Linked DNA regions of Homo sapiens: regions 1, 2, 4, 5 and 6 are each linked to region 3. The links come from fine-mapping of genetic effects on gene expression. A gene starts in region 3. Each other region holds a variant in brackets. All regions are shown on one strand. Distances are from middle to middle.

Region 1 (5,375 bases), 140 kb before region 3:
TTGTAACAACATATAATGTGTGAATGTGAACACATATGTAACAACATACAAAGGTTATGTGAATGTGGTCTCTATCAAAACTCTATCTTATTGTACTGTATCTCAGGTAACTGAAATGAGAAGAGAAATCACAAATAAGGGAAGACCATTGCATTTATATATTAAGAATTTACTTACATTGCTACAGTCTTCAAAAACTTTTTTTTAACATTCTGTTTGTATATTGATTAAAAATATGAATACCAGTCCAAAAAAAAAAAGTTCAAGCACTAAAAAAAAGAGAATAAATTGAAAAATAAGTCTCCTTCTCATTCTATTCCCCCAATTCCCCTCCTCAGAGGCAACGGCTCAACAGCTCTTTGCACCTTTCTGGGCACCCTTTCAGAAATGGTTTTATGTTTACAGAAACTAACACATAGAAATAAGCTCTGTCCCCTGTCCGTATTTCCATACTGAAGCAGATTATACATGCTGTTCTTTTTTCACTTAATATATTTTTGAGAGTTTGCTATCTCAGCACTTATAAAGCATCTTCATTCTTTTTAAAGACTGCATAGTATTTGATTGTGTGGAACCATTATTTTTTAACCCACTGGTTGACAATTAGATTGTTCTTAGCCTTCTGCTCTTACAAAGCTACATACAGTGTGCACCCTTGCATGTACATCTTTGCTAACACGTGGGAAGTCTATCTGCAGGAAGTCACAGTAAGAAATTTCTGGGTTGACTTAATATTTTTCTAGATTTTGCCAAACTGTCCTTCAAAGAAGTTGCACTGATTTATCTAACAACGCATGAAAGTGCCTCAAAACCATCACTTGCAAAAATTGCCATAGGAATTTTTCAATCAAATACTCAAAACGTTTAAGGATTCTAACATGCCTATGTAATTGTCTCAACTTTAGCTGAATATGCAAACACTGTATTTTACTGAAATATATAAACAATGAAAACCAAGTTTCCCATCTCCAGGACTTAGAAGGGTGATTGTTTATGGGAAGTCCCACCAACAAACTACAAATGGGAAAAGGAGTCCGTTGCAAGAGACAGTGCTGCTGCCCAACATCACCAAAAGGAAGTGAGCATTAGTGTTCATGCAGCATGACACATTAGTTTGTATCAACATTTTCTTGCTATGAAAACAACTTGATTTCCTAATTGAAAAAGTCAAACCACATAACATAATTAGAGAAAACATTGTTACATATTTGAAAAAGTAGCCTTTTAAAATGTTTTTCTTTTTAAAACATTACAGGTACAGTTTTAAGATGATTTTATAGTGTAAAAATCATGCTCCTTTATGTAAGATGAAATGGTGTCTTGACTGAGGTGCTACCAGCTGAGGATATGTGAACCCAATTAACCCAATTTTTAACTTGTCCATACTAAGTGGTTTATTTTAGATGTACACTGCTCCCTAAATCCTTTAGGGTACAACATGGAAAAACTATAAACAGGCTATAAAGGTCATGACATTAATTTTGCTGTCATTATCATACCTTCAGAACGCATTCAAAACTAAAAAAGTCTTATCCTCTGGGAAGGAAGGCAAATCTGAAACTAATTATGGTAGTTATTATTGTAATACTATTAAATTAAACACTGTGACCCTAGCTAAATTTATTTTGGTACATTTTGTTAATGAATAAAACCACTCAAATAATACTGTACTGTTGCACACAGCAAAATGGTACATCAGAGGACTAGAACAAAGTAACCACTCAAAAACTTGAATTTTCATTAACCTAGAGCTTAACTGGAACATTTAATGTATTAATAAGCATCCATGGACTCTCTTTGCAGAAGATGCTCTACTTGTTACAGGGGTTTATTTAAGAAGTAAAAACTTCACATGGGTAGAATAACCATTACTATTTATTTAAACCCAAAAGAAAATAAAAAGGGAAAATATCTCAGTAGCTTCTTTTTCTGAGTAAGTTTTTAAGAATCAAACTGCTTCGGGTGTTTGGAGGACTAGACAGTCCAGAGGCAACATCTAGGCTTAATAATTTCCTGCCAGTTCAGGTTCCTACCGTCTTACCAACACCTGGCCTGAGCACCAGGTGGGAGAGGAAGCCGCTGACCCAGCACCTGGGAAGTATTAATGTGTGTGTCCTCTAGTGCCCTGAAACGAGAATCATAGCCACACAGACTCTGGCAGGCTCATTTTAATCCTTGTAAATGCTGGAGGACAGCGATCAGGGCTGAGGACAGTGAATAATGAGTCTGGGTGGGTGGGGAAGAAAAATTAGGCAAGGAGAACTATCAACATCTGTGTAGAACTAACGATCAAGAGAAAGATGAGTAAGTAGCAATCACAAAAGAAAGAAAAAGTAGGAAGAAAAAAGGAACAATGGCAACATTATTATACAAGGAGAAAGAGCATTTGAAGAAAAAAAATCACTTAAATTCCAGTTTCTTTAAATATCTCAGAAAACCATTCAAGCACTGGTTCATACACTCTTGCAGTTAGAAAAGATGCTTATAGTACTTTTGTGTGCACGGCTGACAGTCTTGATAGTCTATAACTACTAATTGGTATAAATGGCCATGTTGCTAGTCAACTTCAATAGTTTATTAAAATTTAGGTTGGGATAAAGTTAAATATTTGAAGAGCATCTTTATTTCTCTAAATTTGAAAGTTAACCTTACAACAAAAATTTCTAACTCGTCTCTGTTTAGAGGTGTTAGCAGACTATGAGGCATTAACACATAGGAAAGATGAGAAAAATCAGAACGCAGAAGGCCCTAGAGGACCATTTTTTTCTTGCAAGGATTTGTTAAATAGTTTACTTGTGGATACTCAAGGATCCTAATTAAAAGGATACAACTAGGTGTGCTTTCCTCTTCCTTTGTTTTCCT[A/G]TATTTGCCCATGTCCCCACAATCTATTTCTAGATCCACTCCTCCAACTGCATTTTGTACTCCAAATGTGTACATTTTCACATTAGTGGATGAAGCAACACTTCGAGTTAGGGCATGATGGTGCTAGCCAAGAGTTCACTTTCAGGAGTAGTCATCTTTGTCTTGCAGTAGTTATTTTATAATTATTTAAATATTTCATTACATTTTGTTCTTTAGAAAAATTAGTTTGGGTGTTTGGAGATGAAAAGATGGAAAGTAAATGTGACTGAGATGACACCAAAAACATAGGCAGCAAAGGTAAAAATAGATAAACTGGACTATACCAAAATTTAAAACTTCCATGTATCAACAGATACAATCAACAGAGTGAAAAGGCAACTTATAGAATGAAAGAAAATATTTGCAAATAATTATCTGATAAGGGATTAATATCCAGAATATATAAAGAACTCCTATGACTCAACAAAACCCAAATAACCCAACTTAAACAGAGCGAAGCATTTGTATAGACATTTCTCTAAAGATGATGTACAAATGGCCAACAAGCATATTAAAAGATGATCACTAATTAGAAAAATGCAAATCAAAACCACAATGAAATAACACCTCACACTCATTAGGATGGCTACTATTTAAAAAACAAAACTGAGAAAATAACAAATGTTGGTGAGGATATGGAGGAATTGAAACTCTTATTTACCATTGGAAATGTAAAATGGTGCAGCAACTATGGAATACTGTATAGCAGTACCTCAAAAAATTAAAAATAGAATTACCATATGGTCTAGCAATTCCACATCTGTGTGAATGTCAAAAAGAACTGAGGCCAGGCACGGTGCCTCACGCCTGTAATCCCAGTACTTTGGGAGGCCGAGAGGGGCAGATCATGTCAGATCAAGACCATCCTGGCTAACACGGTGAAACCCCATCTCTACTAAAAATACAAAAAAATTAGCTGGGCATAGTGACGGGCACCTGTAGTCCCAGATACTTGGGAGGCTGAGGCAGGAGAACGGCATGAACCTGGGAGGCAGAGCTTGCAGTGAGCCGAGACCGCGCCACGGCACTCCAGCCTGGGCAACTGAGTGAGACTCCATCTCAAAAAAAAAAAAAAAAAAAACAAAAAACTGAAAGCAAGATCTCAAAGAGATATATGCACATCCATGTTCATAGCAGCATTTTTCATAGTAGCCAAGAAGTGAAACAACTCAACTGCCCATTGACAGATAGATGGATCAACAAAATGTGATATATACATACAATGGATTATTCAACTTTAAAAAGAAAGGAAATTCTGACACATGCTATAATATGAATGAACCTTGAGGAGACTATGTTAAATGAAATAAGCCCGTCAGAAAAGGGCAAACATTGTATGATTCCATATATATCAGGTATCTAGAGTAATTAAATTCAAAGATAGACAGCAGAATAGTGGTTTCTGGGGGATATGGGGTTGTGGGGAGGAGGGGAGGCCGGAAGAGAAGAAACCAGGGAGAAATTGGGAGTTGTTTGATGGGTATACGGTTCCAGTTTTACAAGATGAAAAATTCTAGAGTTTGGCTGCACGACAATGTGAATGTAATTAACACTACTGAAATGTACACTTAAAAAGGGTTAAGAAGGTAAATTTTAAGTTATGTGTTTTTTACCACAATAAAAAAAGTAAATGTGATCATAGTACTGACATGAAGCATAGGCCTTGTAAACAATATTAAGTTTAGGCAAAAATGGCAATCACTCAGGGTGTTTTATGTGGCAAGTCTTTTAACTTTTACTGGAAGCATACTTGACTTAAGCCAGGCATGTGCTCAACTGTAAAGAAAAATGATAAAACTAAAGAATATTTACAAAGTATACAATATTCATACTAGACATACATCTATGTCAGAAAGAATGACATATTCTTTTTGAATTGTATAATGTTTTACTAGTACTCTGGTAAAGGAATATCTTCTTAGCATATGTCTTTTTGTTTGTTTTACTTTTACACACTGTATATCTGGGTAGTTTTTTGAGGAACATATTTTATACAAAAGTAAATACTGCCTATAAAAAGGGAAGTACTAGCCTAGGGCTCTTCAGGCCATAGGATATCAACACAGCCACTCTGAAGATTGGATCTGGTTAACTTCTTTCTATATTCCCCCCAATACTATCACCCCATGTTCTCTGGTGAGTTTATTAGAAAGGCAGGGAGTTTCAGGTAATCTTGTTCAGAAGGCCATCTTAGTATTAGCAGCTGACAAAAGATCCAGTGCTATAGAGCAAGTGCTTCAACAAATAACATCTTCTCAGCTCCAGATTGGTCCCAGCAGAGGAGATTCCTGACCTCCCTTAAATCTATCACCACCCAGCCACCTCCACTCCCCAGGCTCTGGCATTAACAAAGCTGGCCTGAAAACAGCAGGTTAACCCAGTGGTTCCAGATTACAATCATCAGATGAAAATATGACATCACAGAGATGAGCTGTAAACCCCTAAATTAACTTTCAGATTAAAGCAGCAAGGTC
Region 2 (5,375 bases), 170 kb before region 3:
GTGGTGACTACTTTGGATTCCTTTGCCTTTGAATTCTGCCATCCTTCTTCTCCATCAATATGTTTATTGTCTTTTAGTGATGACTATGAAACCTGGGTTGAAGGGAATATCTATTCTCATCCACAGATGAAGAGTATGTCAGAGTTAACTTTCCCACCTCCCTGGAGATGGAGTGATGACACAGCCCACTGCTTCTCCTTGCCCCGAGGCTATGTGTGCCTGTGAGTGGTCTCCTTAGGTAGATCCTCCCATTCCAGAGCCGGCCTCCTGGCTGAGCATCCACACGCACTCCCCTCATATTGTAGGTTCGCCCCCTTGCTGTCTTCCTACAGAACCTTGCCTAGCTGGCCCCACCTTGTGCTCTCCACTTCCACCGCCTGTTATTTGGTGCTGGAGAAATCCAACCATTGTGAACGCTGGACAGTGTTCTAAGTTTAAAGTTTCTAGTTCAAAACCGATTCCACAGTCTATTTACTTGTCCCTAAGAGACTCTTGGCGGCCCACATTCCTTCCTCTGCTCTTCTGAGGCACTCTCCCTCTGTCCCACCCCTGCCCTATCCCCAGGGCCATCTCTCTCTTGCCAATGTTTTTTGACATTGACTTCGTGGAAAAAAGAGAGGCTATTATGTGGGAACTCATTCACTGTCCCTTTTATTTGTAAACTCCCTTTTTGTCTTTGATTATGCCACACAAATAAATTTATAAAAACCTTTTCTGTGATGGGGGAAAGGAGAAGTACTATAACTCTAAATATACAATGCTCAAATCCTGATATATTAAAATGTACAAAAAGGTGCATCTGAAAATAAGGAAATGGAGTATTCCCAACCCTGGTCTGGAGGCTACCCTTCCTTCCAGGCCCCTTGTGCCTCGGGGATACTGCACCATTGGTGAGCTCCCCAGCTCTCAGGGAGGCTGGCCTGTGACCATCCTGTCTAAAAGGAGCTGCTCAGCTCCATGTGATCACTTGCTATTTTCTTTTTCTGCTTCACTGTCCTTCGAGGTACTTACCTTCACGATGATATTACATTATCTGTCTCCTCGCTAAAATGTGAGCTCCAAAAGAGCAGGGGTTTGTTTTGTTACTGACAGGGTCTCAGTCTCCAGATCAGCAGCTAGCAGTTGTACAACATAATTTTTACTGAAGGAACGAACTATTAACTCTCAACCATATTGACATGGCTTCCTTCTGCTATGCTACTGCTGAACACAAAAACAGAAAAACAACAGCAACAAGAAAGAGTCGTTAGGCCCCATCTCCTTCCTTTTCTTCCTGAGACAATCTATGGTAGATGTGTACATATACACCGCCTCTACTCATCTATTTCTATTCTTCCCTCGAACCCCTAGAATCCTGAAGTTCTATTTTGAACAACTAAAATGCCCCTCAGTCAGAAGTTAGACTGAATGCTTAATCTACTATCTCAAGTCCTTCACCAATTCTTGGTATTAACACCTCCAGTCCATAGATGTGAAAACAACACTTCTTGCAAGATCACAAAGCAGGTATTGAGACTTGGATTTTAACCCAGGACTGTCTGGCACCAAAGCTGTTCTCCCTCCATTCCAACACGCTGAACTTAGAACTAAGTTGTTTAGCAATTTATCTGTTTACATGTCAGTCTCTTCCAGTGACCGGTGAGTGCCACATAATCCATCTCAATGTTGAGAAAAGAAAGATCTTTTTGAACAACCTTTTTCCAATCACAGTGCAACTGTTAGGAGAGAGAGAACATGTCTTTCTTCTAAGAGACATCTACAGCATGGTCACTGGAGAGGTAGTTAATGAACTCACACATAGCAATGCGCAATACCCTACAGCACTGTATCTATGGCCTTCTTTTAACAGAACTTCTGGTGACCAAATCAGGCTCACACCAGAATCTGACTTTTCTGAAGCAACAATTACACAATACATTTAATGACACTTTTAAGCAGCGACAAAGTAATTCTTCAATGAGTAAAAATGAAGAAAAAAAATGACAAAGGTCTTTTATAATTTTAAAAATAATATACATTTCTTAGATACTTCTTAATCTTACACCACCTTCTTCTAAAACTGATGACACTAAAGAACACTAGGACTGAAAGAAAAGTCTAAAATGCTAAAACAATTTCTAAATTCCTTATGTGGCAAGTCCTGCTCCTTTACTAAACTTGATAATATATCAGTGCTATGGTGTAATGATTTGGATCTGAGGAATTTTCTTTTTGCGGAAGGCTGGGGGAGGAGTTCCTCAGAGAAAACAAGACAAACTGCATTTCGTGTATGATAGAGAGTAGACGTCTGGCTTTGGTGTTTCTATTTATTATACTGCTGGAATGAATTTGAGCAAGATAATAATCCTTCGGCCTTCCTGGCCGTAGTTTCCTCTCTTTAGCAAGAGGGGATTAGATTAGATTAGTGTTTCTCAAAGTAGGGTTTGCAGAACCTCAGGAAGGGTCCCGAATACTCTTTTCATACTCATATCAAGATGTCATTTGCCTTGTGTCGACATTTGCACTTGTTGCGCTGATGGGGTAAAACTTCTCTAGCAACTTAGCCAAGTAAGGTAGTGCCCACAAACTGTTCAAGCAGTCATATTCTTCACTGTGGTACTCTCACAGTGGAACAACAAA[A/G]AAGCAGTACAAAATTTTAGTTTTATAAAATTTTGATCCTTGAGTACATGCCTTTTTAATATTCTGTGATGAAATCGTTCACAGTCAGAGTACATGTCTGCTGCATATGGAAATAGGACTGTTGTTCTGAGGACAAGCACTCAATTCAGCCGTAAAGCTGACCTGGCTACTTTTTTCATGGAATACAATTTTTACTTGAATAAAATGGCTGACAGACATATGCTGAAATATGTTGAATGAACATATTAAGACTTGGGTATCTGGCAGACATTTTCTCAAAAGTGAATGAATGGAACTTGGCATTACAAGAAAGAACTTCTAACAGTATTTGTTGCCAATGATAAAAGTCATTTTCTTTCAAGTGGCAATTGGAATTTTGGAAAATTTGAATTCACCACCAGGAACTTGAAGTTTCCCAGTAGTTACTTTTCAGGTAAAACTGGTGCTTATGGGTCAGGCGCGGTGGCTCACGCCTGTAATCCCAGCACTTTGGGAGGCCAAGGAAGGCAGATCACGAGGTCAGGAGATCGAGACCATCCTGGCTAACACGGTGAAACCCCTCCTCTACTAAAAATACAAAAAATTAGCCGAGCGTGGTGACAGGCACCTGTAGTCCCAGCTACTCGGGAGGCTGAGGCAGGAGAATGGCATGAACCTGGGAGGTGGAGCTTGCAGTGAGCCGAGATCGCGCCACTGCACTCCAGCCTGAGCGACAGAGCGAGACTCTGTCTCAAAAAAAAAAAACCAAAAACGAAAACTGGTGCTTACGTTAATGAATGATTTTTAAAATATCGCACAATGAAGTATATGGAAGATTTGCTTAACTCACTTAACTAGTGTTTTCTAAATGACCAGTTTAGTTTAACGTTACATGCGTGGATAAAAGAATCACTTAAGTATGAGACTCAAAATCTAATAGAATACAAAAGTACATGGACAGGGTTTCAAATTTCACAGTACAATTAAACTGAAAGAAGTTTCCATCTGACAAACTTTGGCATAGTATCAAAGAAAAATATCCATGATTATCTGAAAAGCCTACCAAAATATCCCCTTCCTTTCTGACTACTGGAAAGCTGGCTTTTAAAAAAATATGTCAACATATACAACATCACAACTGACTGAATGCAGGACTAGATATGAGACTCAAACTATCTTCAATGAAGCCAGAATTTAAAGATATTTGCAGAAAATGTAAATCAATGCCAGTCTTCTCATTATTTTTTTTGCTTTAGAAAAATATTTAGGTTGGTGCAAAAGTAATTGTGGTTTTTGTCATTAGTTTTATAGTATAGTCAATTTCGTTAAACTAGGTTATTTTTGTTAAGATGTAATGAGCTGTTATTTCAAAATGACATAAATATTTCAATATTTTTTATAATCACCCAATATGGTAAATATTGACAGATACAACCCATACAAGCAAATGCTCTTTAGAGTCCTCAATAATTTTTGAGAGTGTAAAGGGTCCTGAAGCTACAAAGTCTGAGAACAACTGAATTAGATGAAATCTAACTTCCTATGTCTTTTGAGATTCTATAATTGTGTGTGTTGATGAGTACGAGTGGGCAGGTTTGTGTGAATGAGAATAGAAAATCACATCTAGAAATGTTTTACTTTTTGTTGTTAGGTTTTATTCCCTTCACCTTTGTTTCCTTGAGAATATAACATGGCAGATCAATAGGAGAGAGTTTTGATAATAAAGTATTAAAAGGTAAGTCATCCTAACACAAATATTAATTATAATTAAAATATCACTAGCTGTCAACATTAGAATATGAACCAAATAAAATGCTTGACAAAAATCTTATATAATGTTTCAAAAACTTATCTTACTTAAATTTATATTTATGGAGTATAAGTTATATTCAAATGACATTTATATTTTTCCCCCAATTTTAAGAAATATCATCACAAGATACTCTTGGTAGTATATAATCTTTTCAAAAAACAGAGCAGTGTTTTTAAAGAATTTTTTTTTTTTTGAGACGGAGTTTCGCTTTTGTTGCCCAGGCTGGAGTGCAATGGCACGATCTCAACTCACTGCAACTTCCGTCTCCCCAGTTCAAGCAATTCTTTTGCCTCAGCCTCCCAAGTAGCTGGGATTACAGGTGCCCGCCACCCCACCCAGCTAATGTTTTGCATTTTTAGTAGAGATGGGGTTTCACTATGTTGGATAGGCTGGTTTTGAACTCCTGACCGCAGGTGATCCGCCCGCCTCAGCCTCCCAAAGTGCTGGGATTACAGGTGTGAACCACCGTGCCCGGCCTGAAGGATTTTTTTAAACAAAAAGTATTCAAAGTCATTTAAAATTATTTTATCCAAACAAAAGTAATCATAAGTTGCTCTTCCTAATTAATACAAGTTAGATGCTGGAATTCTATAAATGTTTTTAGGATTTTGTTGCCCATTAATTTAAAGACAAGAACAATATGTTTACTCTATTAAAAAGCATTACTAGATTTATGAATTTCTATTCCTATTGCTATTAGATTTTTAAAAACAGAAAATGCCTATCCTTTATTTTTGGCTTGCATAAAATCCTAAATACCCCTGTCAAACTACTTTGCTTTTATCCCTGCTCAAGCCATCACACTAACCATCTGCATAAATAAAGATGCAAGCATCTGCTATATTGCAAATGGTCTCAGGGGCAGATGTTTCCATCCTTGTGTTCATGTCACTGGGGCTGGATACATTATTTGAACAGATGTACACAATCTGGAAGTGTTGTGTCCCACAGTGAAATGTCTCCA
Region 3 (5,375 bases):
ACTTCTCCCTTTTCTTCAAATTCCACATCAGCTCGTTTCCCGTCAGCTCTACCTTCAAAACGTATCACCAATTCTACCGCCTACCATCATCTCCACAACTAACCTCCCCCAGCCCAAACCACCATCATTTCACCTGCAGGGCACAGCAGCTTTCTCCCGATTTTCACTCCATCCGACCCACTCTAATCTACAGTTAATTCTCCATACAATAAAACTTAAATCAGACACCAGTCCCTTGATGCAAACCTTCCAATGGTTTTCCATCACAGTTAGAACAACATCTTTACTTCACCACAGCCTACAAGGGACCCCACGGCCTGCCTGGCCCTTGACCATCATTGGCCACTACTTTCCCCGTTCCCGGCTGTGCTCTAAACACTCTCACTGTGTCTGGACCACCTCAGAGCATTGTCCTGTGCTGTTCCTGCTGTGAGGCCGAAAATACAGTCACCTGGAGCCTGGACTCTGAAGTCAGACTGCCCACGTTCAAATAGTCTCTACCACGTTTTAGCTGTGCAACTTTGGCAAATTCTTAACCTTTCTGTGTGTCAGTTGCCTCATCTATGAAAGGGAGATACTAGGTTACATCAAAAGACTTGTAAAAATTTAATTTAGTGTTCAGAATAGTGCCTTACATATGGTAAGCTCTACTTTTTTTAAGTGTTCATTGCTATTAATTATTCCTCTCTGAAATGTTCTTACCTCAGGCTCTTTCCCTCACACTTCAAGTGTCCCTGCCTTTGAATGGCTTTTCCTGACAGATCCCACCAAAAACAACCTTCCCTGTTCCCCCACTGTCCTCCTTTCTTCCTTCCCTTCACTGCACTTATGACTACCTGAAATTACATTATGCACGTATTGTTCGTTGTCTATTTCCCACTGCAATATGAGCCCTGCTAGGTTGGAGGCTGTCTTCTTTGCTGCTCTATTTCCAGAGATTTCTGACTCACATCTCATCCAGGCTAGGGGACCAATGCGAATCTCCTAATAACAATAGCACACTTAGCCTTTCATTTGCACTCTCGTGATCTCATTTGATCCTGGAAAAACCAACAAACAGATAAACCATCGGCTCTCATTTTAGATAAGAAAAACAAAGTTCCAAGTTTGCGTGACTTGTCCTTGGACACGAAGCTAGTTAACGAATAGAACAAAAATTAGAAGCCCTGCTTTCTGATTCAAAGGCTCTTCCTACCTGGATGAAAAGATATCACACTCCTGAAATGAATTTACAGAAATGTGAACTCTCGAGCTCCTGTATAAATACACCCTGAAGTGTGCACAGTATTCTTCCCTTCAAAGTTCCTGAAGACTACTAGTCCCGGAGTTTGAGAGGCATTATAGTCTAGTAATAACTAATCGATAATGTAGTACCCCTTGACCAAAATATTCAAGCAGTCAGATACGATGATTGGATATTCCAAATCGATACAGCAATCCTTAAAACTCAGTGAGTCTGTGTTGTCTATAATGTGCTAGTTCCAGCACACTGAAAGCTTCCTCTGCAAAACCCAGACAACGGGGGCATTGTAATTGCCAAGAGTACCGTGCTAACGATACCTGTTATTTCTTGGGATCCCCATTCTATCAAGTTTAGTGACAACAGTTCGATCACCCAACAGGCTCCAGTGTGGTATAGAATCAGATGGAGGGAAGGTTGTCGGGGGGAGGCAAAACAGTGAAAAAGTTCCCCTTCTACAAGATTCCTGGTCAAATAGCCAGTGGCTACCACATTCCTCAGAATAACCAAGTGTCTGTGTATAAGCTTTCTCCTAGCAAATTTACACACTTGTGTTATCTCACGTGTTCCTAGTGCTGTGGGAACAACCATTAGGGAGGCCAGAGGCTGCTGTACCTCCCTTTTACACAAAAAAGAAAACTGAGGCAGCAACTGGTTATCTTATAAATGTGTCCACGATGACTTGGTCACTTGTGGGATCCCAACGGCCAGGACATAGGATTCCTATTCTCTGAGAGGAAGCTTCCATCCCCTACTTAACATGTCAAACTCCAAGGCTGAGAGGGGGAAGAAAAGGAATCTAAGTCCCTTTATCACGGAAGAAAAAAAGGGACTCTCCATTTGGACTTTCCGCCCCTTCTAAGGCCTCGCTCCCAGGCTCGGAGACGCGCCCCGCCCCAGGGGAAAAGGTGCTGGCCCGGCCCCACGGGGCGCGGCCTCGCCTCCCGCACCCCAGGTCCCTACCGCCCAGCAGGGCGCGCTGCCACTCTGAGCAGACACCTGTCCCTTCGCCACAATCGGCGACTCCCCAAGGAACTGACGCCCCCAGAGCCACCACCACCGCCGGGACTGCCAGCTGCCAGCGGGCCCCGCAAGCCCTAGGAGCTGCAGGAATCCTCGTAAACTTACAGTTTTCCTACAGCGTGCGCGTCACAGCGGGGTGACGTCACGGGCCCAGCAGTCGGGGAGGTCAAGCCACGGGGCGCGGGCCGCTGGGCCCCCAGGCTCCGCCCTCGCCCCGCCCCGGCGCCGCGGCGGGAGACACGCCCCCGAGCTCCACGCCCTCGAGCTCCACGCACCTCCCCGTAGCAGACACCCCGCGCAGGCGCAGACGGCCTCTGCGCCCGCATGCCTGTGGGCTTCGCCGACCGGGGCGCCTGCGGCGGCGACTGCTCTACCAAAGCCTCACTCAAAGCCTGAAGTCGGGGTTAGAGGAGGAGGAGGGGCCGACAAAAGGGGACGGAGACCTTCAGAAATACTGTAAACAAGCTGTCGCCCTGGGGGCTGGAGTAAGACGCCTGGGTTGTGAGGTAGTTTTTCCACAGACATTGCCCGCCTTCCTCACGTGTTCGTTAAAAGTTCTCCACGTGTGGAAACAGCCATTTGCTCTCCATCAGGTGCTGGCGGGTCCTCAGCCCTGAAAAGACAGCTCTCCCAGGGTCCCTCGCTCCTCCCCGGCTCGACGCGGCTCCCGCTAGACTCCGCCCAGACCCCGAGCAGTCCCCGCCCATCTCTTGACTATGCCCCTCCCACGCCCACTTAGGCCTTGCCCCTGGGTCCCGCCCTTCCGGCTCCCGCCCCTGGCTCCCGGCTCCCGCGGGCCCCCACCTGCCCTTCTTGCCCTGGCGCCGCCTCCAGCCCAGCCCGTTTCTTGCAGATTTTAGCTTCTCCCTTGCCTGCCGCCTTTCCCGTTTCGGCTCGGTGAAGCTACCTATGGGTTGCTGTTCATTTAACAAACGGTGATCCGGATAAACATGTTCACTTCTTCGCCTGGGCAAACTTTCCAGCCCCCGACCCACTCATGTCACGATACCTTCCCGTGTCCAAGTCCGGCTCTCTGCTCCCCACTTTTTTTTTTTTTTTTTTTTGAGACAGAGTGTTTCTCTGTCTCCCAGGCTGGAGTGCAGTGGCGCGATCTCAACTCACAGTACCCCCTGCCTCCCGGGTTCAAACGATTTTCTTGCCTCAGCCTCCTGAGTAGCTGGGATTACAGGCGCGCGCCACCACAGCCGGCTAATTTTTATGTTTTAGTAGAGACAGGGTTTCACCATGTTGGCCAGGATGGTCTCCATCTCTTGACCTCGTGATCCGCCCGCCTCGGCCTCTCAAGGTGCTGGGATTACAGGTGTGAGCCGCCGCGCCCGGCCTCTTTGCTCTTTTATACTCTCAGAAGCAATGAGTTCTGGTTAAAAAAAAGGGCTCGATAGACGGAAAAAATGAAGGCTTAAAGAACTGACAACAAAATATTAACATTTGGCTTGTGGAATTCTTACACTCTCGTAAGCAGAAAAAACAAATGTTATGGCAAAAAAGTGTCTCAGACAAATCCGTCTTGGGGGGAAAAAAATTAAAAGAATGAGAAAAACAGACTTCGGAATAAATAGACCCAAAGGAGGAAGTATTGAAAATGGCAAGATTCACTTTTACAAACTTATTTGGAACCACGGCAGATGGCCAGGGCAGGGATTTTGCAAGGCAGCTCCAGTTGTAAGTAAAACCTGAAACAATGGTTTATTTCCACTCTCATTGAAAGTGCTGTCTTATTTTTACAGGAAAGAGTGATGATGGGAATATTAGGCTTTAATTCGAGATCTGAGCTGGTTAAAAATAAAAACGTTTATTATTCCAGAAAAATCTACGTCAGTGTTTTTAAATGTTCTGATTTGAAAAAATATTTGTATATTTTATCTGAATATTAGTTATTATCAAATGATGTAAAAGAAATTTGTAAAGGCTGTACCATAATTGTAACAATAAGGTTTTTCTGTAGAGCAGAGGTATAGAAAAATTAACATTTTTTAAAGTCCTGCATATTTTTAAAACAGTGATATTTATGTTTTTCCTTGCAAAACAATTTTAAGAAACCTTTAAATTGTTAATAGTTTACATGCTTATAAAATGTTTTATATATATCATTTCTAAAAATCGTAATTTTTTTAAGTGAGTTTCTAGGTATACCTTATGGGAGTGTTTCACAGGTACATGTCATCTGTTATTTTTTGGAGTGGAAATGGGTAAGAAGCATACACCAAATGTATCAAATGTTTTTACTATAGATACTTTTGCCTCTGAAAGATGGCATTGTAGAATATAGTCTTCTCATCGTATTGTTCAGTATACTTTCTCTTGAAATCTCAGGTATTCAAAAAAAAAAGTCGTTGTTTTGCTAGATGCAGGAAAAAAGTAAACGCAGTGAACAAAAGATGGCCAACAGTAAAGGTACCCAAGCAAGGATCACAGTCTCAAGGAATGTCAAGTAGAAATTTGTGGGAAAATACCACTCACGTTCAGTCAACTTTCTGTAACAAACTGGAATTTGACCTAGACAGGAAGTGAGAAGCTAGGGCCAAAAGTGTTGTTATTAAAGAGAGGATCTGCTTTTTTAAAGAAAATAAAACCCTGGACCTTGGAGGTTTAGCACTGGAAGCACTGAGGCCCTCCACTATGGCCCTTGGGCTTTCAGTTCCCCCTTGTGATTCTTTCTCTTTGATATCTGCTGCCCATAGCAATCTGGCTTCCAGAGCCCTCTATGTCAATACACACATCTCTTCCCTTGGTCCTGCTTAGCAAGCTAAGAAAAGCTGAATTAAGACAAAACAGAGTACTTAATGTATGGGGAAAATAAAAGTGAAAGAAATATAATTCCTAATATTTCCTGAGTATTGATTCTGTGCCAAGCATTGCATTATTTCCTTGAATTCTTGCAACTAGATAAGAACTGTTACTATCCCCATTTTAAACACAAGGTAAGTAGGTTAAGTGCCCATGTCACACAGCTGCTGAGTAACACAGTCAAGATTCCAGACTTCATACTTCAGAACCCACAGCCATAACCACTAATCTGTCTCAAGTTTCATACAACCAGGCACAAATTATGCAAGAAACAGAGGGACTTAGGAAGTCCAAAATATGGACT
Region 4 (5,375 bases), 190 kb before region 3:
GTGCCTCACGCCTGTAATCCCAGCACTTTGGAAGGCCAAGACAGGAAGATCATGAGGTCAGGAGTTCGAGACCAGCCTGCCCAACATGGTGAAACCCCATCTCTACTAAAAAAAAAAAAAAAAAAAAAATAGCCAGGTGTGGTGGCGCATGCCTGTAATCCCAGCTGCTCGGGAGGCTGAGGCAGGAGAATTGCTTGAACCCGGGAAGCGGAGGTTGCAGTGAGCCAAGATCATGCCACTGCACTCCAGCCTGGATGACAGAGCAAGACTCCAACTCGAAAAAAATATATAAAATAAAAATAAAATGCATTTCCTGCAAAAATGCCAACTTCTGTGGTTCCTAGTAGTTTCCATCCTTGAATTCGGCACTTAAGATCTGTCTACTCAAGCTTTTTACAATCTTTTATATGGTACAAAATACCTCTTCTCCCAAGTCTGGCCAAAAGCCTAATAAATACCAGCCACCAGTTATCACATGGCCCACAGGTGCCAGGCATTTCGTGTGTGTCTCTTTTACTCTTCACAACAGTGCCTTGACATAGGATTGTCACCCCCATTTCACAGAGGAGAGAATGGAGCCTAAGAGGGGACACTCTCTCGAGGCCACACACAGTAAGTATTGGAGCACTTTGTTGCACACCACACCACCTCTGGCCTAAGTATACAGGTTGGGACTGTTCCAGTAACATCTCCACACCCAAGAAAGGCTCTGAGCTGTTCCCAAAGTAACTTTAGCTAAATACTCTCTCTCATCTTCCTGCCTCCCCAGTAGGAGGCCCTCTTCCCACCATTCTCAATGAAGCACTACCAGTAAGGGCCAGAAACTCCTTATTTTGGGTGGCACTGGGGCTGTCTGCATTGTAAGGCAGGGGAGTTTTCAAAAGCTGAGAACTGTAACACTGTACCACAAATGAACCCATACACACTGACATCCGGGGAGGGTCCTATGCCCCACTAACCTTCCTTATCTTAAAAAAAGAATTTTCGGCTGGGTGCAGTGGCTCACGCCTGTAATCCCAGCACTTTGGGAGGCCGAGACGGGCAGATCACGAGGTCAGGAGATCGAGACCATCCTGGATAACATGGTGAAACCCCGTCTCTACTAAAAATACACACACACACACACACAAAAAGGAAATTAGCCGGGCATGGTGGCGGGTGCCTGTAGTCCCAGCTACTCGGGAGGCTGAGGCAGGAGAATGGCGTGAACCCGGCAGGTGGAGCTTGCAGTGAGCCGAGATCGTGCCACTGCACTCCAGCCTGAGCAGCACTCCAAAAAAACAAAAAGAATTTTCTTAAAGATGAGTGTCACTTTTTCATGGCTCCCCACCTGCGCCCTCCCTCTCCCTATGGATCAGTGCTCTGTTGAGTCATCTAAATTTAGTTAGTACATTGGAGCTGCTGCTCTGAAATGCTCGGAAATGCAGCTGCTCTGAAATGGGGATCCAGCCAGAGTGCTGAATCATGAGCCAATCATATCTTCTCCATACCTTTGCTCTTTTCCCCATTCCTCACTGTACTCCTTTCTGGAGACTGCCTATGGCCTTGCTGTAAGAATATGTGGGGAAATAAAGGCCACAGGTGGGCTCCTGCACAATCTAGGGGACTTGAGACTTTCCCCGAGTGCTGGGTGGGTGTATTCTGTCCCACACCTTTGTCTCCACACACTCCACTCTGCTTTGGCCAACCGGCCAGTGTTTCTAAAATACGACTTAGCATCTGAGGATTGAGCAGTCTATGAATTATTTCATAGTTTGAATTCAAGTTTCATGGTTTGAATTCAAGTAGTATTCTTTGTAGAAGTCATTTGGTAATGTCTTTGAGACCAATATTTCAAAAAACAAACTGGGAACTGGTTTGAATGGTAAAGCGACTTCATTATTAACCAAGAAGTTCTAAAACTATCAAACAGTGGAGGTCTGATATTCCCTATTTGAAACTGGGTAAAGCGTGATCAACAGACAAACCACAACACAATCTTTCAGATATTTCTATCCCTACTCTCTTATTCCCAAATTTACAAAACTATTTGCAAAAAGACAAAGATTAAGTTTTCTCTTGTACTATTTGAGGCAAATCATGTCTACAAACACTGGCTTTTAAAATCAGACATTAAAAAAAGATGTAAGATCCATCAGCTTATCAATTAGAATTTAGTTCTTTCTCTGTTTAGGTAACTTCCTTGAGCACAAAATATTATGACCATACCTGGGCTGAGTTTCAGCAAACAGGGCTGGCCACACGTATGGTGCTTTCATCCAAGACTGAGATTATCAGTAGGATGAGTGCTGAAACTCCACTTTTCTAAGAAAATGATTTTGCAGCCAGGATGGCCAGAAGCTTCAAATGACAACTTTACTGATTCGAGGTAATTTCCCAGGAATTTAAGAGGCAATCATTTACTTCTGACTTTCAAAGAGAACTGGGCTTGAAAAGTACAGTTCCATCTAAAATTGATCAGCTAGCGACAACCCTCTGAAGTTACTTGGGAGTGAGGGAAAGCAGTTGAGACCCCTACACATCTGGACTGAACTATCTAGTTCATTTTCCAGGTTGTAAATTTTCTGGTCCCAAAGACTACTTGAAAATAACTTTTTACCAAGCAAGTAGACTTTTTATTAGCTGAAGTACTAAATTTTTTAAAAAATTATTTTGATATGGAACACTACAGCTATAAGACTTGCCAACAACTAATCTTCAATGAAATGTGCATTTAAGAAAATAGCAAAATTACAAGAAACAAAAATCTGAGTCCTGAAAACATGGATTTTAAATTATTGTAGATGACAATCTTATTAAAATACTGCTCTATATCATATTCAAATAAACCAGAGAATTTAATAAATATCAGCATTTACCATCTAACTTGATACTATGGTTGAGATTAAAAGGGTTTTGCTGCCTGGACATTTTTGACATTTGTCAATCTATATAAGCAGAAAACATCTGAACAAAAGGAAGGACACATGCATGTTTTCACTGAGAGCTGTA[T/C]TTGAAGAACAGCCTATATTCTGCTAAATTTCAATCTTCAAATTTTGATCTTTTTATTTATTCTGAAAGTCTAAGATATTAAGAATCAGTACGTATTTTAAAATAAGACTGCATATAGTTAGAAAAATATGCTTCGAGAGCTTATATTTTATTTCGTTAAGAAAATAAAACCATGTACAAAAATCATTTCTGTTCACTCACACCAATCCTGTTGTTTGATCTTTGTGACTAAGCACCACCATAAAGCACGAAGCTCTGAAGGAAGGTGGCGGCAGAGCTCTCTCCTTAACCCCAGGCTGCCTTGGGGTCTCATTTCTCAGCTTCACTGGAAAGTTCGATCACTCCCTGGTTGGAGACCGTATTTAAAATAGCCCACAGTTTGGAAGGGTCCTCACAGTTATGCTGGTGCTTCCAGTGGTGGAGGAGGTCCTCTTTCCGTCCCAGCATCTCTGCACAAAGCAGGCAGTTAAAGCCTGAATGGGACCACAAGAGAAACGTGTGGAGGCCAGGACACTCAGGGCCCTGGCAGGTTTCCCTTGGCTTGTTGGTTCCTGACTGGGGTCCTTCATTTTCCATGAGCATTTCCACGCCATTCTGATGAAGGTGGAGCTGCCTTTTCAGTCTTGGACATGCATGTGATTCCTCGGAGGAGGAATGAACCTTCTCCGGCTTCCCTCTCTCAGGATGCCTTTTCCAGTCGGGGCTAGCGTGCTGCACCAACTCTTCCTGAGTCCCCTTGCTTCCTGGGAAGGTCCCTTCTTGTAGCCTGCCCTCAATTTCCTCTCCATGAACATCAAGTAAATGAAATTTTATTTCCGCAAAAGACTGAGCAGTAATCTGACAACGACCACATTTGATTTGTAATTTGACTTCGTCTGCCTGGTTTAGAAGGAAGTCTTCTTCCAGGTTGGACTTGTTTTCCCTGAAAAGGCCAATAATAATGAAGATAAGATTTCATGGAAAAATGCAATTGGAATCTTTCCTCTCAGCTGTCAGCCTTCAGGGATCTAAAACATAACACTGACGAGAAAGACAAGGGCTGGGGTAAACAGAGAGCACCTGGGAAGACCTTCTGCAAGGACCGTGGTGAATACTAATTGTCACTCCTGCTTGTGGCCACACATTTCTCCAGCTACCAGGGTTCATTTAGTCAACAGTCCTCTTCACGCATCTGTCCCAGGCGAGCTAACTCGTCTTTGGTTACCACAGGGACAGGAGCAATCACGTGGAAGAGTCACGTAAGAGCGCGTGAAGGGCACGGGAACACCCTCGGTTCTGTTGAAGGTAACGGTCCCACCCTACCCACTGTGGCTCTCCCTAACCTTGAGCACCAATACCTTCTATTCAATTTTGGCTCACTCTGTCATGTTCAGTAAAAATAAAGGGTGCCTACCCTATTTCTTCCTTGCTTTTCTAGAGTTTCTCCTTTTTCTTAGACATTTCTGTCCCCTTTAAGACCTCTGTGCCTTTCACTAATGAACCATGAAACCTCACTTCTTCCTTCTTTTCCTAGAGTTAGATTTTGATTTTTAGGTACAATGTCCAAACTACATTTGGCAAGAGCGTCTGTTTTCATTTGGGGAAGAGGAGAAGATTTCATATTCAGAAAGGAGCCAGTGAGCACCCAGCTGAAGGTGCAGCCGGGACTTGTGGGGCTAGTCCTGAGAGTGTCAGGTTCATTTGTGCAGGGTTGGCCAGGGCCACTGCACCACCTGCACCTTGCCTGCTGTTGCTGCTGGGAAAACATGGAGAGGAGGTGGGCAGTCCCTGAAACCTGCCGCCATGAGAGCCACTGCGATGGGGCCAGGCTGAGTCACCTGCTGGCAGGGGAAAACAGCACACTAGGGCATGCAGGAGTGGGTAGAGAGGGGCCCTGAGGCAGAGCTGGGCCAGGGGTGGTGCCACACTTCATGGAGCCAGTGGGAGCTGGGGACAAGCACGAGCCCTGCCCTTTCCAAGTTGACGGTGTGGGAGCTTACCAGGCACAACTGCCTGCAGCTGCCCAAGCTGCAGCTGTGACCCAGGCACCCCTGTGCTCTTGGAAGCTGGGAGCAGGCAGGAGCGCTCCTGCCCTCCCAGGCATCACTGTAGCTACCCTGCTGTGGCTGCAGATCCAGGCATCTCTGCACTCTCAGGGGTCCAGGAAGGCCCCTTTCCCCCCACGGGCTCAAGAAGCACCTGCTCCTGCTGCCTGGCTTCTCCCTGCTGTCAGCACCTGCTCCAATCTCAAAGCAAGGCTGGGGCTGAGCCTGGGCTCTGCTGTAACCTGGTTGGGTGTGCACACGCTTGAGGCAGTGCTGATATGCCCACCTCCTACCCCATTGGCCTGCTCCAGACTTTGGGTGCCAATAAGCATGGAAGGGAGGCTGAGGAAGGGGTGCTCA
Region 5 (5,375 bases), 42 kb before region 3:
TACCCAATGTGATGGTATTCAGAGGTAGTGCCTTTAATTAGCGTTAGATTAGGTCATGTTGGTGGGGCCCTCCTGATGAGATTAATGCTGTTATAAAAAGAAACAGATCTCTCTCTCTCTCCCCACCCACCACCCCCCATCCAAGTGCACACACCCAGGAAGGGCCATGTGAGGACATAATGAGAAGATCAAACCAGGTCTGCAAACCAAGAAGCAGGCCCTCACCAGAAACTGATCTGCTGGTGCCTTGATCTTTGACTTTCCAGCCTTCCGAACCGGGAGAAATGAATTGTTGTTTAAGCCACCCAGTATGTCATATTTTGAGAGAGCAGCCCAAACTAAGACAGAAATCTTTTATTCAAGATTTAATTTTTATGGCGAACTTACTTTTTTACTTAAATAAGTTTATATTATGTACTAGAATAAAATGAACTTGAGAATGCCTACAATTTAGCAGCATCTAAATTTGGTTAAGATGTTTAAAAGATTTCCATAATAGACACAATTTATTTGACAAGTTTGTCATAAAAATTTTATTGAATAAAGGTGCTGTAAATCGAGTTTACTGTTTTTTTTAATAGTAGCTTTGAAAATGTATGTGCTAGAATATTTACATATTAAACTATTACAAAATAAAATTTAATAGAATTTGCTTTGAACTTACCAGGTACCTCATTATCGACATAGAGATTACATTCTCAAATTTAAAAATCACAATTTATATAGAAAACAGTAACTTGAAAAAAATCAATAATTTCAAATGTAGCAATCACAAAATGCAACCTGAAAAAGACTACAATTTTATGAAGCAATTAAAGATAAAATACAACCGTATTTTTAAAATTTTTTTTCCAGGAAAATACAGAGAGCTGTATTCTGTGGAGCTCCTTAGTACTTTCTAATCTCCCTTATGTAGTATATTATTAGTCAGGGTTCTCCAGAGAAAGAGAGAGATAACAAGATTATAATTATTGTACCTAATAAATATATTAGTACAAATTATAGCTAAGAAACTAAATAATGTAAGCTTTTACTGAGAATTATATTTACGCTATTTTTAATGTTAAAACAGTTTTGCTTTAATGAATATAGCTATATGTTAATATGTTTTAGAAATAACTTTATTTTTAAAATAATTTCTTAATAGGACTATTTTATAGGTTCGCCAATATGATGAAACCAATTTGTCAGTCAAGCAATAAAATTATATAAGTTTACAGTTTTTTAGAAAGAATATCAATTTTGGCAATAAACAGTTAACCTAGATGTGACAGTTAATTTTATGAGTCACTTTGGATAGGTTATGATGGCCAGCTGTTTGGTATAACACTAATCTAGATGTTGTGTGAAGGTCTCTGTGGATGTAATTAACATTTATAATTAGTTGACTTGAAATAAAGCAGACTCCATACTGTGGTGGGCCTTATTCAATCAGATGAAGGCCTCAACAGCTAAGATAAAAGTTACCTGAAAAAGAGGCAAGTCTACATCAAGATGGTAACATAGAAATGCTGAGTTTCCAGCCTACTAGCCTATTTTGCAATTTTTACACTCAAGACCATTACCAACTCTTACTTAAGTATATAGCCTGCTGCTGTATTCTACATGTTTGATTTGCCAACTCCCAAAATCCTGTGAGCCAATTCCTTAAAATAAACTCTATATCTTTCTCTTGTTCTCTCTCTGTTTCTCTGGAGAACCCTGACTAATAATATACTACGTAAGGGAGATTAGAAAGTATTTAAGGAGCTCCACCAAAAGGAAGCTGCTCCCTGATAAGAGTAGAGAGAAAGGGTTTTATTTTAAGAAACATGCAAGTAAAGAAGAATTAACATTAGCATTAACTTCTTTTAAAGAAGAACAGAATCCCAGATTCTATGGCCACATCTTCCTATACCAGAATGATACATAACCCAATAACCCTGACCCTTAGCTTTCAGAGAACAGGGACATATCTTACATCTCTTTGTATCCCCTTTCTAGCAGTGAGTGTGAGACAGAGAAGATGCTCTAAATGGTTGCTGAATAAACTAAAGTCTCAGAAGACATCTCCAGTCCTAAATGTGATTAAGGGGGCGAGAATGTATGCAAAAATATGGATTTTAATGTTTTGAGTAGTATTGTGGTGTTGTCATTCTGAGACTGTTGTGTGTGCACTATAGGATGAAAATACATAATTGTAGGACTTTCCAGTTCTATAAGCACTCATATCCTTGAAAACAGAGGAAAGAGATACAGAAAGAAGATTTAAACACACTATCATCTCCACCATAGTCTCAAGTTTGAATTGGAAACACCAATATAAACTTATGAAAT[A/AT]TTTTTATTTTATCTTCAATATGTGCACATACTTCTGATCTCTGTCTACAGAAAGGGCTGAGAGAAAACATGATCACCCCTTAAACAGTAGGGCTTCTAAGAGAAATAGCTGAATCTAGGACTCAGGAGCTAAGTTTAAGAGGCTTCCATTGGCCAAAGATGGAATAATTTGAGCTTCAGTGATGGTAATACTTGAAATGAATTAACTAATACGTTAAATTCTAAAAGTTCATAATAATATTCTTAAAAAACTGGTCACCTTTAAGAGATGATAGAGAACCAATTCATTATCTTAAGAAATATATCAAAGGGAAAAAATCAAGAATTTATGTTACCTGTCTTTTGAGAACTCTGGGTAACTGAATAAGAAATAAGGACATGTATCTCTTTATAAAAATATTCCAATGAATAAATGAAAAAAATAAAAAGAATTAGAATGTTACTATTTTTCAAACCTTAATGAACAAATAGATACAAATAATATGCATAAATGGCTGCTAAGATCACAAAAAAAGATGCAACCAAACATTGACAGTAGGTTATCCAGACCAGCAGCCTCAGCCTCACTCAGATACTTGCCAGAAATACAAACCCTCAGGTCCAACCTCCAATCTCCTGAATCAGAAGGTTTGGGCATAGGACCCAGTAATCTGCATTTTATTATTACAAGCCCACCAGGTGATTCAGAGGTATCCTAAACTTCATTAAATTCTATGTATAGAACTGCCAAAGGAATCAAATCTGAGTCTGATCCAGTTCATGGACAGCTGCCAATTTATAGGAATTATAGAGGTCAGAGAAACGTGTGGATCTACACCACAAATACGCACACATTAAAATCCAGAATGTGGGAAATTCTACAGATCAAACCTCCCAGGTTCTTCAACAGGTAAACTGTATGAAACTTAAAGGGATGGAGAAGGAACGTAAAGATTAAGAATCTATAAAGTAACCTGTATAGATTAAGAGAGATTGAAGATATATCTTTTTTTTTTTAATGAGCAAAACCAAGAGACAACTTCCAGAATGGAGGAATGAAGAGTGCCATAGAATTTCTCCCCAACAAAAACAATTTAACTGGAAAAAAAATTGTTTAAAACAACCACTTAAACTGGAAATTGTTTGAAGAGTATATAATAAATGGAGAAACATGCATTCAAGAAAATATTCTAAATCTTGGTAAGAGCCTGTCAGTGGCATTTGAGCCATGACCTGCTCCCACCTTACCTCCCCTGCACCTCCAAGCTCTGACTTATGTCTTAGTCTGTTTTACTTACTCGAGAGCTCTAGTCCAGAAGGTCCGGTCAAGAATATGGGGGCTCCTTTTCCCCTCAGCTCCCAAGCTGGGGCTGCATTTTCACCCTGGTAGAACAAGCCACTGGCACTGTTCATTTTCCCTAGCCCTCTATGGTAGAGTTTCTATTCTGTAGAGGCACAGCTGAGAGGGCCAGGGCTTCCTTACTCTAGCCAGCCCTCATTTGTGGGGCAAAAGTTCTACTCTAGGTGCAGCAGGCTGAAAACACTGGGCTTCTATCACTCCTGGATCAACTTGCTGGTGGGGCAAAGGTTCCATATCCATAGGGGCAAGCCAAGAAGACAAGTGGCTAATGCCCATGCTCCCAACACCCTTTTATAGCAGGGGTGTCACTCTGGAAGAAGTGAGTCACTATTCCTGCCCCCAGTTTCTGTGCAGTGGTGCAAGGTTCTACCTGTGGGGAGATGCAGACTGGAGACAGCAGCCCTTAAGGACAAAAAGTTCCTCTGCTCTGTCTGAGGGAATTGACATAGTTAAGAAGGTGCTCATGGCCCCAGGATACAAGCAGCAACCAACAAATTAGGACTATCAGAAGTTTAACAGAACTAGAAAAAGAGACAGCCAGCTCACAGTAAACACAGAGGTCAGGAAGGCTGTGCCCAAGTGGGAGGCTGCATCCACTTGAGCAATCAGAGCTTGATATGGGCACAAGCCACACAGATCAATTAAAAAAGGAAGCTTCACTGTCACTCGGGGGCTGAAGTATAACCTCTGATCAAACAGTGGCTGAACAATAAGCTCTTCTGCCCCAAGATCAACTCCTAGGAAGCCAGGCTTTAATATGAAAGTATCCCTGGCAGTTTACTAGACTGTGGGCATGCTCAAGGCTTGCTTCGCTCAGGAGTGACTGGGAATGAATAATCCAAGCTACTAATCTATGGCTGAACATGGGGCAAAACAAACTTCTTGCCATCTGCAAGACCCTTGCCAGATGTTAGTACCTTACTCTTGGACTTCCCAGCCTATACACTGTAAGAAATAAATTTATTTTTTGGTATTCTGTTATAGCAACAGAAACAGACTGAGACATAAAATTGGTACCAAGACGTAGGATTTTTGCTATAATATCTGAAAATGAAGAAGTGGCTTTGGAACTGGGTAACGGGTAGAAGCTGGAAGACTGTGGAGGAGCTGGATAGAAAAAAACCTGCATTGCCATAAATGGAGCATTAAGGGTGATTCTGGTGAAGGTTCTGAAGATGACTAGAGAAACTCTGAATCTTCTTTTTTTTTTTTTTTTAAGACAGTCTTGCTCTGTCGCCCAAGTTGGAGTGCAATGGTGCAATCTCAGCTCACTGCAACCTCTACCTTCCAGGTTCAAGTGATTCTCCTGCCTCAGCCTCCCAAGTAGCTGGGATTACAGGCATGCGCCACCAAGCCCCACTAATTTTTGTATTTTTATTAGAGGAGGGGTTCTGCCATGTTGGCCAGGCTGGTCTCAAACACCAAACCTCAGGTGATCTGCCTGCCTTGGCCTCCCACAGTGCAGGGATTACAGGCGTGAGCCACCGTGCCCAGCCTGAATCTTCTTAGAGATTACTTAAGTGCTCATGACCAGAATGTTGATAGAAATATGTAAAGGTCATTCTGAAGAGGCCTCAGATGGAAATGAGGAGCAAGGTACTAGAACTTGGAATAAAGGCCACACTTGTCACAAAGCAGCAAACAGCCTGACACGCCTCAAGGCTATGTCCATGCCCTAGGGGTTTGTGGAATGCTGGACTTGAGAGTGATGAACTAGCAT
Region 6 (5,375 bases), 160 kb before region 3:
AAAACTTTTCTACTTGCAGAAGACTTGTCTAGGAAATGGCAAACTTAACTGTAAGGCTGACAAGTGACTAAGAATTGAGAGACTCGGCCAGGCACGGTGGCTCAGGCCTGTAATCCCAGCACCTTGGGAGGCTGAGGTGGGCGGATTACAAGGTACAAGTCAAGCAAGTGGAATTTAAGCCAGGGGGTTAAATTCAAGATCAGTCTGGCCAACATGGTAAAATCCCCTCTCTACTAAAAATACAAAAATTAGCCACGTGTGGTGGTGCGCTCCTGTAGTCCCAGCTATTCGGGAGGCTGAGGCAGAAGAATCACTTGAACCCGGGAGGTGGAGATTGCAGTGAGCCGAGATTGCACCACTGCACTCTAGCCTGGGTGACAGAACAAGACTCTGTCTCAAAAAAAAAAAAAAAAAAAAAAAAAAAAAAAAAAAAAAAAAGAGGTCAGGCGCAGTGGCTGACACCTGTAATCCCAGCACTTTGGGAGGCCGAGGCGGACAGATCACGAGGTCAGGAGATTGAGACCAACCTGGCTAACATGGTGAAACCCCGTCTTGACTAAAAATACAAAAAATTAGCCGGGGGTGGGGGCAGGCACCTGTAGTCCCAGCTACTTGGGAGGCTGAGGCAGGAGAATGGCATGAACCTGGGAGGCGGAGCTTGCAGTGAGCCAAGATCGCACCACTGCACTCCAGCCTGGGTGACAGAGTGAGACTCTGTCTCAAAAAAAAAAAAAAAAAAGAATTGACTCCAGTAAAACAGACTCTCACTTGACTTAAATGAAGATTCCTTCCTGACCAATGAACAATGAGACTTGCATTAACCAACTGTGTAGGAACTTAAAATTCATTCTGACTACCCAAGATACAAACTTCAATGGTCAATTGGCATAATCACAGTGAACTACTTCTTAGCACATAAGACACATACATTGTCCCTGTCAGAGAATCATTTGGTGATACTGCTCACCTGTATGAGTTTTCTTATATGGGAAGTAAATAAATTCACTTGCATTTTTAATCAGTGTGGTGACTTTGTCTTTCTTTCACCAAATCTAAATAGTTGGCCTTATTATGTTGTTTTCATGCCTCTTTTTTGAAAAACACAGTTTAGCTCATCATTTGAAAATAACAGACAAAAAAAGGAGGTTATGGAAAACTAAATTCTATCCCTAAATCCTGAAAGAATGATATAGAAAATTGTAACAAAATAAGTCTCATGAACATCTCAAAATTCTATAAATTATATTCTCACACAGAAAGGAATAACGGTGACACTAGTTTATAATAGAAAAATCTGTAATATAGTATAACTTATCGTTAGAGTGACAGTACAATGTTAAATCTCTTTATCTGAAATTAGATAACATTTAAATAGAAGAAACCAGAATTTCAAATTTGTTTTCTCCATTAATAATGCTGCCAGCTCTTCCTAGCTTTAAACCCCTGGCTTAAATTCCACTTGCTTGACTTGTACATATATGTTAATATCCTGAACAAATGTCATCTCCTCCATTTTGTTTCCTGACCAGCCTCAAAATCTCTGGCTTAGCCAACTGTCCTTTCATTCTGATTTTCAAAGTATGTCATACTCACTTCTAGTACAGCATTAGTCATGCTTTATTCTAATTAAGGACATGCACATATGCTGTTCCAACAGGATTTTAGAGCCTAAAAGCTCAGGCTCTGTATGATTTACCTTTGGATTCTTCATAGCATCTGATAGTTCCTCGTATGAATTACCTTGGTGATCATTAAACCTGCTTCTACCATATGAACTTTGTTTGGGGACAGTATGTTAGTACAGCATATTTTCCTTAATTTAAGCCTCACAACTCTGTTGGTGATGTCTTATCTGAATTTTATACAGAAATGCATATAATACGTGTGTATGTGTTTATAAGTTGGAAATTCAAAGGTATCATAATTTATAGCTAGCCATCAATGGTTTGTTAAATAAATCAATCTGCATTTAATTAATAAATAGCATGTGCCCAGCAAACTTCTCATGTCACACAAATTATGTACATGCAATTAAACAAATATATATGTAATATATTACGTGTGGGTGTGTGGGGGTGTGTGTGTGTATATATATATATATATATATATATATATATATATATATATATATATATTTAGAGACAAGGTCTTGTTCTGTTGTCCAGGCTGGAATGCCATGGCATGATCATAGCTCACTGCAGCCTCAAACTCCTATGCTCAAGCAATCCTCCTAGCTCAGCCTTCCAAGTAGCTGGGACT[A/T]TAGGCATGAGCCATCACGCCTAGCTAATTTTGAAATTTTTTTGTAGAGATGGAGTCTTGCTATGTTGCCCAGGCTGGTCTCTAACTCCTGGCCTCAAGTTATCCTCCCACCTCAGCCTCCCAAAGTGCTGGGATTACAGGTGGGAGCTGCTGTACCTAGCCATAAATTATATTTGATCATAAACAGAATCATAATTAATACATCTGATGCTTTTGTTAAAAAATATTAATATTAATCTAAGACATACAGAAAGCATTTGAATGAATGAATGAGTAAATTAATGAATAACTGGGCAATTCATAGGACTTACATGTATTCACATATATTATTTTTCCTTATTGATGTAATTTTCCATAATTTAAGTTATAATTTCTGCTCACTTTGGTTTAAAATGGCTTTAAGCATTCATATGTGTAATTAAGCATAGTATGTTTGATGAGAGAAAAAGGAGATGATCAAAAATTATTAGAAATATTCTTTATAAATTGTAAATTCTTATAGAAATATCTTTATAAATTAAATATTCTTTATAAATATATATTCTCTATAATTTATATAAATATTCTTTATAAATTTTATGATAGATCTGAGTTCAAATCTTGGATCAGTCACTTACTGGTTGGTGGTCTTGGCAAAAAGTACCTAATCTTGAAGTTGTAAAATAAGGTTTACGTCTAACTTATTGTGAAGATTAAATAAAGGATGTAAAGTTGTAGGTAGAATGATTATCACAATGGAGGCACATGATTGAGGTTTTTTTAAGCTATTATATATCCTCTGTCAAATTCCAGGATTGGGCTTAAGCATCTTTAGTCCCAGAAAAGACTGGGTAAGGAGGTTTACTTGAGCTCTGGGTAGGGCCAAGGGGTCTTACTTTCCGGTCAATGGAAGTATCCAAGCTTATGTGATAGCCCAGAGAGGTAGGCATCAGAACAAAACAAACTGTGATGAGAAGCAAAGCAGCCAAGAGGTGTGAGTGCTTTCTCCCTCTGTATCAGCCAGAGCCAAGCAGCTTGTTGCTTAGTTACTCACATAGACTCACCTTTTTAGAGCCTGAAAGGAACACCTAGTCATTCTCGATTTTTCAATGAGAAAACTGAGGCTCAGGGGCAAAATAACTTTGCCTGGGGTTCCACAGCTGGTTGGAGGCAGGTATGGAATGGAGTCCAGCTTTCCTGATACTTGTTCCATTATTTTTTCTCCTAAGCTTCTCCTTGCTTGCTTGGATAAAAAAAGGTAATACCAGCTAGGACACTGAATTTCAAACCCTTCATCAGCTACCAAGTGCTGCACAAATCTTCCAGAGGATATATACCAGAGAACACTCAAGAAAAACACATGCTCTTTATTTCTAGTTGGGGTTTGCCCATCTCCTTTCTTGCCCTAGTGTTCCCGGCTGGATTTTGTGTGAGTCTCAAGGACTCTCACTCTCTCTTCGGATCAACTCCTGGGTAAGAATCAAACCAAGCGGTCTAATTCCTGCTTACTCCCCATGGGTCCCCTTGGAGCATGTTTGGCCTTCCAAGGCCATTAGGCATCCCAGGCAAGAGGCGGCCTCATGGCCATCTCACTGACCAGTCTCAAAGATGAGGATGTCCCAGATATTAATAATAGCCATTGAGAATGGTAGTTTTATCATCATATAAGTGCCTACTATGCAAACAACAATATGCTAGGTGATTTACATATGCTATTTCCTTTAGTCTCCACATATCCTATAGAGTGGAACTTATTATCTTCATTTTATAGATTTACAGATGTGGAAGCTGAGGTCAAGTGATACACCTAAAGTTTTACAGTTAAGTGGTAGGACTGAGTTTCAAATCCAGATTCCATGTGCTCAAGAGTTATGATACTACCTTTCTCACTGGTAGAGAGATCAAAGGGTGTTTGCTCTATTTAAGGGTCCTTCATAACAAATTCCCTCCTTTCACTAAAAGCTACATGTTCCACTAAGGCAACCTAATTTTGCCTCATTAAAGATATGTCTTTTTTCTCATACATGTCAGAACTTCTCTTCTGTGTGGAAGAGACTAGATGGGGCAGGGAAAGACTGGTATTTCTCCCCGGGGTTAGAGTGTACCCTTTATGGTGAGGGTAATTTAATTACTCTTGATGAAGAAAGGACTCTACCTCCATCTGGAGGTACAGGTTCTTCTGGAAGGTCCAGAAGTGCCTGTTAAAAAATCATTATTTTATTTTTTATACATTGCAAAAAGTAAAATAGTTTTTCTATTTCTTTTTAAATGGATATCAGGGGAAACAGGCAAAGAAATGTATACACAAATTCTATATCCTCTAAGTGTATGTCTACAGATGTGTGTGTGAATATATATGCATATATTCTTCTACTCACTAAAATACTTGTGTTATTTTGCTTCAATAAAGCCAACACTTTTTAATTTTACTGATATCTGTTAGTGCCAGTTAACTGCCAGTGAATAAGCAGGGCTCTGTGAGTTTTGGGTGGAATGAGATGGCTGGGCTCTCAAGGCGCTATAGCCTATAAAGGAGACAGGTCCTTAAAACTCAGGAATCCATATACACTCAAATTATTTACCAAAAGAAATGAGTTTTCATATATAATTATAATTTTTATTTTTAATTCTAGGAAATAAGTTACCTTATGATTAGAGGTCAATGACATTCAATGTATCAAATTAAAACTATAACAGACTCATCACCATTTTCCTCAGCAGTTTAACTTACCTTCATCTTTTGGTGGTACTGATACAGAATTCTGCATTATGATGTACTGGACTTGAATAGTATCTTTCCTAAAAATAAGCAAGCACAAATAAGTATTAGAAAGTAATTGAGAGAGCATGTTAATGCATACTAAATATAGAAATTCTAAGCTGTTTTTTAAAGTTTGTTTTATAACTATATGAGTAATAAGAAATGGATTGAGCTATTAAGAATTGATGTTTTTATTTTCTTCTCATTTTTCTACAAATAGGATTTTATTGAATGTACTAGAATGGGCTTAGAGACAGATGCAATGACACATCAGGGGCCTTAGTCACACTTCTGCTCTCATGGGGTCATGTGTAAGTAGGCAAAGTTAGGATTCTCTGAAAATGTACTCTCTGATAATTGCTTCATATACTTTAAG

Evidence for each region. PIP is the estimated chance that this variant, and not a neighbour inherited with it, causes the effect.
Region 1: its variant is fine-mapped to the expression of ZNF438 in whole blood (TOPMed, PIP above 0.99).
Region 2: its variant is fine-mapped to the expression of ZNF438 in whole blood (TOPMed, PIP above 0.99).
Region 4: its variant is fine-mapped to the expression of ZNF438 in whole blood (TOPMed, PIP above 0.99).
Region 5: its variant is fine-mapped to the expression of ZNF438 in whole blood (TOPMed, PIP 0.98).
Region 6: its variant is fine-mapped to the expression of ZNF438 in whole blood (INTERVAL, PIP above 0.99).

The regions. Positions count from the first base shown.
Region 1 is chr10:30,892,334-30,897,708 of GRCh38, forward strand. The region is part of intron 4 of ZNF438 (zinc finger protein 438); the gene reads right to left. Among named protein-coding and RNA genes, the nearest start is that of ZNF438, 140 kb to the right of the region's middle. The variant A/G (reference allele first, on the strand shown) is at 2,863.
Region 2 is chr10:30,863,483-30,868,857 of GRCh38, forward strand. All of the region lies in intron 5 of ZNF438 (zinc finger protein 438), which reads right to left. Among named protein-coding and RNA genes, the nearest start is that of LINC02644, 140 kb to the left of the region's middle. The variant A/G (reference allele first, on the strand shown) is at 2,620.
Region 3 is chr10:31,029,465-31,034,839 of GRCh38, forward strand. It overlaps ZNF438 (zinc finger protein 438), which reads right to left and starts at 2,401. Exons shown (of 7, transcript NM_001143768.2): 1 at 2,369-2,401. LOC105376481 (a long non-coding RNA gene) reads left to right here and starts at 3,044. Exons shown (of 3, transcript XR_001747410.3): 1 at 3,044-5,375. RefSeq lists a silencer at 2,063-2,622.
Region 4 is chr10:30,841,661-30,847,035 of GRCh38, forward strand. ZNF438 (zinc finger protein 438) reads right to left here. Exons shown (of 7, transcript NM_001143768.2): 7 at 2,972-3,913. The coding sequence ends at 3,301. Among named protein-coding and RNA genes, the nearest start is that of LINC02644, 120 kb to the left of the region's middle. RefSeq lists an enhancer at 5,102-5,375. The variant T/C (reference allele first, on the strand shown) is at 2,992.
Region 5 is chr10:30,987,562-30,992,936 of GRCh38, forward strand. The region is part of intron 1 of ZNF438 (zinc finger protein 438); the gene reads right to left. Among named protein-coding and RNA genes, the nearest start is that of ZNF438, 42 kb to the right of the region's middle. The variant A/AT (reference allele first, on the strand shown) is at 2,317.
Region 6 is chr10:30,872,029-30,877,403 of GRCh38, forward strand. It overlaps ZNF438 (zinc finger protein 438), which reads right to left. Exons shown (of 7, transcript NM_001143768.2): 5 at 4,970-5,037. The coding sequence starts at 5,006. Among named protein-coding and RNA genes, the nearest start is that of LINC02644, 150 kb to the left of the region's middle. The variant A/T (reference allele first, on the strand shown) is at 2,260.